Linked DNA regions of Homo sapiens. The protein of the gene in region 2 interacts with the protein of the main gene of each other region in a biochemical or structural test. Each region holds a gene or a part of one and is shown on either strand. Other genes may lie near its edges. The genes, in order: TNKS and CACNA1S.

Region 1 (3,820 bases), on a different chromosome or scaffold from region 2:
AGAACTCTGTTCCCTTTTATTCCACTTTGTCTTCATTTCATAAATTAAAAACATAAAGTGCCATTTTAAGGCAGTGATATCCAAATTTTTAAATCACACACCCTCCAGGTAGAAAAGTTTTGAGAACACTTAATATATATATATGAATTTCTTTGTAAATTATAACCAAGAAGTGCTATACTATTATAAAACTTACACAAAGAGAATTTATGAAGGATGAGAAAGAGATGAAATAATTAAAAATTTAAAAAGATTTCATGATTATTATTTTCTGAGATAGAGTACTGCTCTGTCACCCAGGCTACAGTGTAGTGGCATGATTACAGCTCACTACAGCCTCGACCTCTTGGGCTCAAGTGATTTTCCCACCTCAGCCTCCCGAGTAGCTGGGACTACAGGAATGCACCACCACATCTGGCTATTTTTTTTTATTATTTGTAGAGACGGGGTTGGCCTGTGTTGCCCAGCTGATCTCAAAATCCTGGGCTCAAGCGATCCTCCCACCTCAGTCTCCCAAAGTGCTGGGATTAAGGCATAGGCTATGGTACCTGTCCAAAACATATTTTAATTACTTATGCTAGAAAATATCCATTGACTGTAGTTTAAACATTTAAAAAAACTTATAAAAATTGTGATATTAGGAATTTGAGGGTTTAATTTTAGGTTCATTTCATTTTTCTTTAGAGACAGAGTCTTGCTCTGTTGCCCAGGCTGCAGTACAGTGGTATGATCATACCTCACTGCAGCCTCAAACTCCTGGGATCAAGTGATCTTCCTGCCTCAGCCTCCCGAGTCGCTAGGACTATAGGTGCACACCACCACGACTGGCTAATTTTTAAATTTTTTGTAGAGATAGTGTCTTGCTGTGTTGCCCAGGCTGGTGTCGAACTCCTGGCCTCAAGCAATCCTTCTGCCTTTGCCTCCTAAAGCTCTGGGATTACAGGAGTGATTACGGGCCACTACACGTGGCTCTAAGTTCATTTTTGATAATTAGTTTGAATGGCTATATTAGTTGCAAAGATTTCATACAGATTCATGGAGCCAATGAAATAAATGCATTGTTAACTATGCCTACTCAATCAGAATGCCTAATTTTAATGTAATTTACTAATTATGCTAAGGCTTTCATTGAAATTCTGTAGTAAAATTCCATCTTTACTGATGTTCTTGCGAAGTTATTAGGAAGTGCTGCATTACAATGTTTTGAATAGATTCAAAATCTACCCTAAAACCAAATTAAGGAAGGCTTTTGAACAGGTGAGAAAATTCTGTTTTTATGTGTTTAAATTATGTAGATATGACGGCTGGGTGATTCATTTATATCATTTTTCAGCAAAATCACAGAAAAGTGAACATTTTCTAAAAATCTATGTTCAAAACGTTCTCTTCATTTTTTAAAGTTTCTTTTAAAAAAGCAGTTATTTTATCATTTACCTAAAGTGTGTAACTTTTACCTTTAAGGATCTGATTATGTTTCCTTTTTAAAGGGTATCTACATGCAAGTCATGGTCATTTGTCCTCAGAGAACTATTAACAAATTTTGAACCCTTTTATTTTCATTAAAAAGAACACAACTATGACAACACCTTAAAATACTACTTCACAAAATAACCAGACCACCTTTTTACACTATAAAAGCATGTCAGGGTCACTCCCTGTGTCCCTTGTCAGGGTCACTACTCTGATCAAGTATGATATTTATAAAAGTTCTACCATTTAGGATAATATCCATAAATTCAACTCATTTGGACACAAGTAAAGTACACTATGCCAAAATATGCTGAAAGGGAACAAACAAGTGAGTTTGCCACTGTCAATCCCTCGATACTAACAAGTCCCACTCTTACCTCAGGAAACCTTGACATCACGAGTCACAATGGCTGACACGTGGACCTAGTGAGAGTGCTGGCATCATCTTTGTATTCAATATTGGTAAATCTGAATTTCCTTATTCTTAAATAAAAGTATTATAAATTGAAATGCTAGGATTTTTCCAACAGGGCATCTTGTATGCTCCATAGGGAGTCTATACCCTACTTTGGAGACAACTGCTTTGAAATATACATTCTTGAGAATGAAAAAATCTATAATTTCAAGTCACCTCTAAAAAACAACCAGTTTGCTTCTTTCCTCTCTTAAGTGCTTGACAAAGTTTCAGACTACACCATTCAGAAAATGCCAGTAAAAATTATTAAATATGTCATATTTCTTTAGTGTAGAGGTTGAGAAAATTATTACAAATCTGAAGGCATACAATTTTTTTTTTTGAGACAGATTCTCACTCTGTCTCCCAGGCTGGAGTGTAGTGGCGCAATCTCAGCTCACTGCAAGCTTCGCCTCCCAGGTTCATGCCATTCTCCTGCCTCAGCCTCCTGGGTAGCTGGGACTACAGGCACCCGCCACCACGCCCGGCTAATTTTTTGTATTTTTAGTAGAGACGGGGTTTCACCGTCTTAGCCAGGATGGTCTCCATCTCCTGACCTCGTGATCCACCTGCCTCGGCCTCCCAAAGTGCTGGGATTACAGGCGTGAGCCACTGTGCCTGGCCACAAATGTTTTTTAGAATAAGTAGAGCTATTCTGATGCTATCATTTAACATAATTTATTTTCTGATAAACTGTTATTCAAGTGGACACTATCAAAATATATCCGTATAGTATTAACTGAAAGTAATGTAAAGATGAAATCTATTTCAAATGACTATAGCTATATTTTGTTGCTTTACAGAAGGGTGACATTAAAGGATCAAGAAACACGGGTAATTATTTTTATTAGAAACAAGATCTAAATCAGCTTTATAGGAGAATCCATGAATTTAAGTACGAACTAATAGTCCTTTATAAAATTAGTTTCTTCAGAAAAATCGGAGAGAGAGAAGCAGTGTTAAGAGCAGCTGGCTGCTCAGTGCTGAGTCTGGCACTCTGCTCAGGTGTGTGCCTCACCTTGGCGCCATGCTTATGCAGAACTTCCATGACATCATTATGGGCTCTTTCGGCTGCAACATGCAGGGGAGTCATGAAACTACAGAAAAGAGGAAAGAAAGAAAAGGTAATTGTCTCTCTTTTATTGCATTTCCTCTTTAGGAACTGAACAACTCCTTCTGCAATTATACTTACTCTTTATTTTTTTCATTAACATTTGCTCCTTTTCTAAGTAACAATTCTGTCACTTGTTTACGTTTGGGATGCAGAGAGGCCACAGCACAGTGCTATAAAGTAAACAAAACCAAGTTAATAAAATACACTTCCATATGTACAGTAGCTCTTGGAATTGAACAGTATCTGCTGACCATTTAAAACATTGTTATCTCAGAGTATCAGAACATATGTATATGTTTTATATCACAGAGATGATCCATATTCTTTCTACGTATAGTGGAAATACAAAACGTAAGCGTTTAAACCAAGGTGAAATTATGCTCTTAAACATTAAGAGAGATCTTATTTCTTTTGGCTTAGCCAATCAATAAATATTCACTATATATTCCATGGAGAGCATCATAATACGTATGCCTCTGCAACGCTACAGAAATCTATAACTAAGTTACTCAATCTTTCATTAGGCCATCAGCCACACAAGTCAGTATTTCTAAGCTCTTCTACAGAGGTACTCCCAGCACTACAGGAGACGTTTATATGCCCAAGGATAAGCAAGAAAATGATAGAACTGAAGCAGTTTAGAGAAAAATATTCTCAGAAATTTTAGGTTTTAACATAATATTTATACAACTTTTTTATTCTGCTTCATTTTAATATTCGTATTAAAATTTAAAAATAAAAAACTACTTTCAACTAAATAAAATGAAAACTCCAAAAAAGTG
Region 2 (3,820 bases):
TTACTATGGAAAGCAAAGCTTGACTCTGCTATAATGTGGAATGCACGTGGTGTTTCCACAGAGTCAAAAGCGACATCAAATGCCAACTGGAACTGTTATGCTTCTAGAACCTCCTGGAAGGCAGGAGCTGGGGGTCTTTTAATGAGAGACAAAAGCATGGCGAGAGTTGGGTGTTGACAAGCAATTGCTCTTGCTTGTCTGGAAGGGACGTGGAAGCCAAAGGGAGGGCAGCGGCTCATTCATTCCTTCAGGGAGCGTGTCTGGTGGGCCTCCTCTGCACCAGGCCCTGGGCAGGGGGCCAGGCAAAGGGATGAGGCAGACACAGACACTGCCCTCAGGGGATTCTGGGGACCCAAGCTTGGCAGAGGAGGGGGCTGGGGAGCAGGAGGTGGACAGCCCTCAGTTGGGCCAGGGGGAGAAGGCTGCACGCAGCTGGCAGAGTGGCCAGACACAATAAACACTCCCATCCCTCCCGTCCCTCCAGGACAGGGACCAACAAGACCTATTCCCCGCGAAGATTCTCTAGGGGCTCCACGCTGCTGCTTCTCTCAGAGCCTGTTCCCTGCCCTCAGCGAGGATTTGGCTTGTAAGGCCCTCAGCTCTAGCAGAGGCCCTGGCTCAAGTATGGAAAACATACTCCATACATGTTTGTTGAATGAATGAATGATTGTAAGATGATGCCATTTCATGTCTAAGACTGACTGGGGTTATGTAATTATGACTTTGAAAGATCGTGCTTTGGTGATAGGAGGAGCAGCTGGGTCATGCAGGAAGTATCAAGGGTGTTGGTGTATACTTAGGAATCAATTTCTCTGTCCTGCAAATGATCTGAGAGCCAGAGACATCTGGAAATCAGGGTTTGTGTGAGGGACATCTTTGTAGGGCTAATTCCTAGAGAGGAACTGAATAGCTGTGTTCTCCTAGGAAAATGAGAAAAGTATAAGGTTGGCTCCGGATGTGAGATGATGAACTCCCAGCCTTAGAGGCTCCTGGTAGATGTGGATGATGCCAGACATACCAGCCAGGAAGATGGGCTGCCGCAGCCCAGCTGCACTGACGGAGGCGGAGTGTGGGGCTGGGATAGGGCGTATGCTTGGCACAGGCCTGGCAGGATGGGAGGAAGCGGGCAAGGGTGGGAAGGGAGAAGAATGGCTGTGGGGCCCTGGGAGGAGGGGCCTCCCTCCCCAAGGAAAAGCCACGTGGGGTAGGGAGAGAGCAGATACAATGGCAACAGTGGTCAGCAGTCAACCAAGAGGCCCGGGATGGATGTCACTGAGGAAACTGGATCTGGACTTGCCACATATTAGCCTTAAAACTCTGTGCATTCAGTTGAAGCAAATTCACTTTGAGTCTCAATAATGTGTTGTGTTGCTTGTGTATTTAATTTTTAAAAGAGCTTAAGATAGTTGCTGTCAGGTTTTCATTTTAGCTTATTAGATCTCTTAAAGCTATTAACCATCATTGAAAGATGGCTGTCTCTTAAAAGTTTGATTTAGGAGAGTTGTATTTATAGATTGAAGTTTCATAGTCATATTTAAAAGATGGACATCAAACTAACCGTTTTCTTGTTTTGTTTGATAGAATTCTAAGTGCATGACAATAGCTTTAAGAGATGGGGCTTGAATTGTATTTAAATTTCAACTCAGTAGACACATGACCCTCTGCTACCATTTCAGTAGTGTTAGAAGCCCATTGACTGTTTCTGAGATTATCATTGGGCTGCTTTTGTGGAACTCAAGGTGCTATTTAAATGTAACGATGTCTTACTGGCTTTCTGCAAACTTATGTGTTTGGTGTGGTGAAGACCTATTTTTCAAAATAAAATATTCTCATATGGAAATCTGTGCATTCGAAGACATCTGTTTTCACAATGTGGGGCTCCTTGTGCTTGAGAGTGGGCACCAGGGCTGGGAGCGGGAGGGGGAGCTGCTCGCGCAGGCTGGGGCTCACCTTGAAGAGCTGGACGCCGATGCAGGCAAACATGAACTGTAGGAGGGTAGTGACCAGCACGATGTTCCCGATGGTGCTGATGGCCACGAACATGCACTGCACCACGTGCTGGGGACAGAGGGGCCAATGGGGACTGGGGGTGCACCCACAGTAACCCTGCTAGCCCAGTTGAGGAAACCCCAGGAGTGCAAGACTTGCTGCCTCCTGATGAGTTGGAGGTGGGGAAAGGCTGGTGGGGAAGCATAGCTACCCCAGCCTCATCCTTACCCCTATCTGCCCAGGGAGATGGGACAGGGGTCCCAGCCATGGCTGGGCTGAGGTTTCTGGAGCGAGGAGGCCCCTGTAACCCCTCCCATTCCTCTCTGGGGCTCCTGCCCGGGCCCTCTCTCACCTTCAACCCCTTGGCTCTGTTGATGGCTCTGAGTGGTCGGAGCACCCTCAGCACCCTCAGGATCTTCACCACGGAGATGGCACTGGACCTGGGGGGCGGCAATGGTGAGGGGGCTGAGGGCAGCCTGCTCCAGCCAGCCCAGTCTGCGGTGGAGCCTCCAGCCATATCCTGCCCTCCACACCAGCTGCCTTTCTGCCTGAAAACACTCCCACCTTCCCCTTCCCTTTCCTCCAGCCGTGAGAGTGTGCCCGACTCCAGGGCACAGCCACCCCTGCTATCTGGACCATGCTCTCATGGGTGTGTCATGAAGCAGAAGACAGCCTTCCCCTGTGGGTGGCTAGAAGCTCCGTCCCTCCCGTCAGACGGTGAGCACCCCAAAGGCAGGGGCTGTGCTCCCCACAGGGTCGGGGAGGGAGGGACCACTTCCTCCTCTCTGCATCTCCTGCCAGTCTCTAGAACAGAGCGCTGCCCACTTCACTGGTGGCAACCCACATTCCAGCTGGTGACAACCCACAGGACCCCCTGCCTCCATCGGAGGCCCCGAGAGACCCTCCTCTTGTGGCAGGGGCCCACCAACATGGGTGGGACTCCCACTACAAAGCCCTGGCACAGAGCAGAGGGTGGTCTGTGCCCAGGGCTGGCCCTTGCCGCTGCTCACTCAAGTCCCATGGAGATGAGGGACACGGCCACCACCAGCAGGTCCAGCATGTTGAAGTAATTGCGGCAGAAGGAACCCTTGTGCAGGAAGGCTCCGTAGGTCGTCATCTGGGGAGAAAGAGGCAGCAGCCTGGATGGAGGAGCTTGGAGAACAGGCCTGTCTCCCACAGACAAGGGCTTCTCGCCTCTGCTCAGGAGAGCACTTACTGAGGCAATAGCCTTCCAGAAATCTCTATATTTCACTCAACTCCTTGCAGTGGCCTAAATGCATTTCCTATCTCTGCTCGCAGTTGTTGAAATGTGAGGACTTCTCACGGGCAGCTGGGCCAGAAGTCTCTTTCTTTACATGCCATAGGGAACCCTGGGTCTCCTTTCCCATGGGGCCACAGAGTGGGGGAGCCCTGGCCCTACTGTCTCCTGTGGGACATAAAACTTCTCCTTCCTGGAAAGCTTCTTGGGCAATCCCCTCTGCCTTGTGGTTTGCTAAGTCAGGCTGAACAAGCCCTCCAGGACTCTAGGGGTCCTAGGCCCTCTCTCCTCCCTCTCCACCTCCTTCCCATCACCTGCCTTCTTGCTCCCCTCTCAGCTTCTTTGATATATTCTCTAATAATCTCCCATGCCTTTGCACAAATGCATTTTGCCCTTAAAATCGAACAGGGTTGAAACCTTTCCCAGCATTCAGGGACCTATATGATTTTGTCTTAATTTGCCTTCCCAGACTCGGCACCCAGGCCTCCTGTATGTGCAATATATCCCAGCCCAAAGGGGCCACTTTATCCTCTCTGGCAATGTCCCCAGATCTCCTTATAATGCACTTGCTAC

Evidence for each region.
Region 1: the proteins of CACNA1S (region 2) and TNKS interact in a test that uses a peptide from one of them, tested with the Homo sapiens proteins (one large-scale study listed by BioGRID and IntAct).

What each region holds. Positions count from the first base shown.
Region 1 is NC_000008.11:9,709,343-9,713,162, reverse strand, and holds part of TNKS (poly [ADP-ribose] polymerase tankyrase-1), read right to left. Parts: intron 3,209-3,820; coding exon 3,117-3,208; intron 3,022-3,116; coding exon 2,943-3,021; intron 1-2,942.
Region 2 is NC_000001.11:201,063,888-201,067,707, forward strand, and holds part of CACNA1S (voltage-dependent L-type calcium channel subunit alpha-1S), read right to left. Parts: intron 3,107-3,820; coding exon 3,000-3,106; intron 2,430-2,999; coding exon 2,342-2,429; intron 2,059-2,341; coding exon 1,951-2,058; intron 1-1,950. UniProt on the Homo sapiens protein: Pore-forming, alpha-1S subunit of the voltage-gated calcium channel that gives rise to L-type calcium currents in skeletal muscle.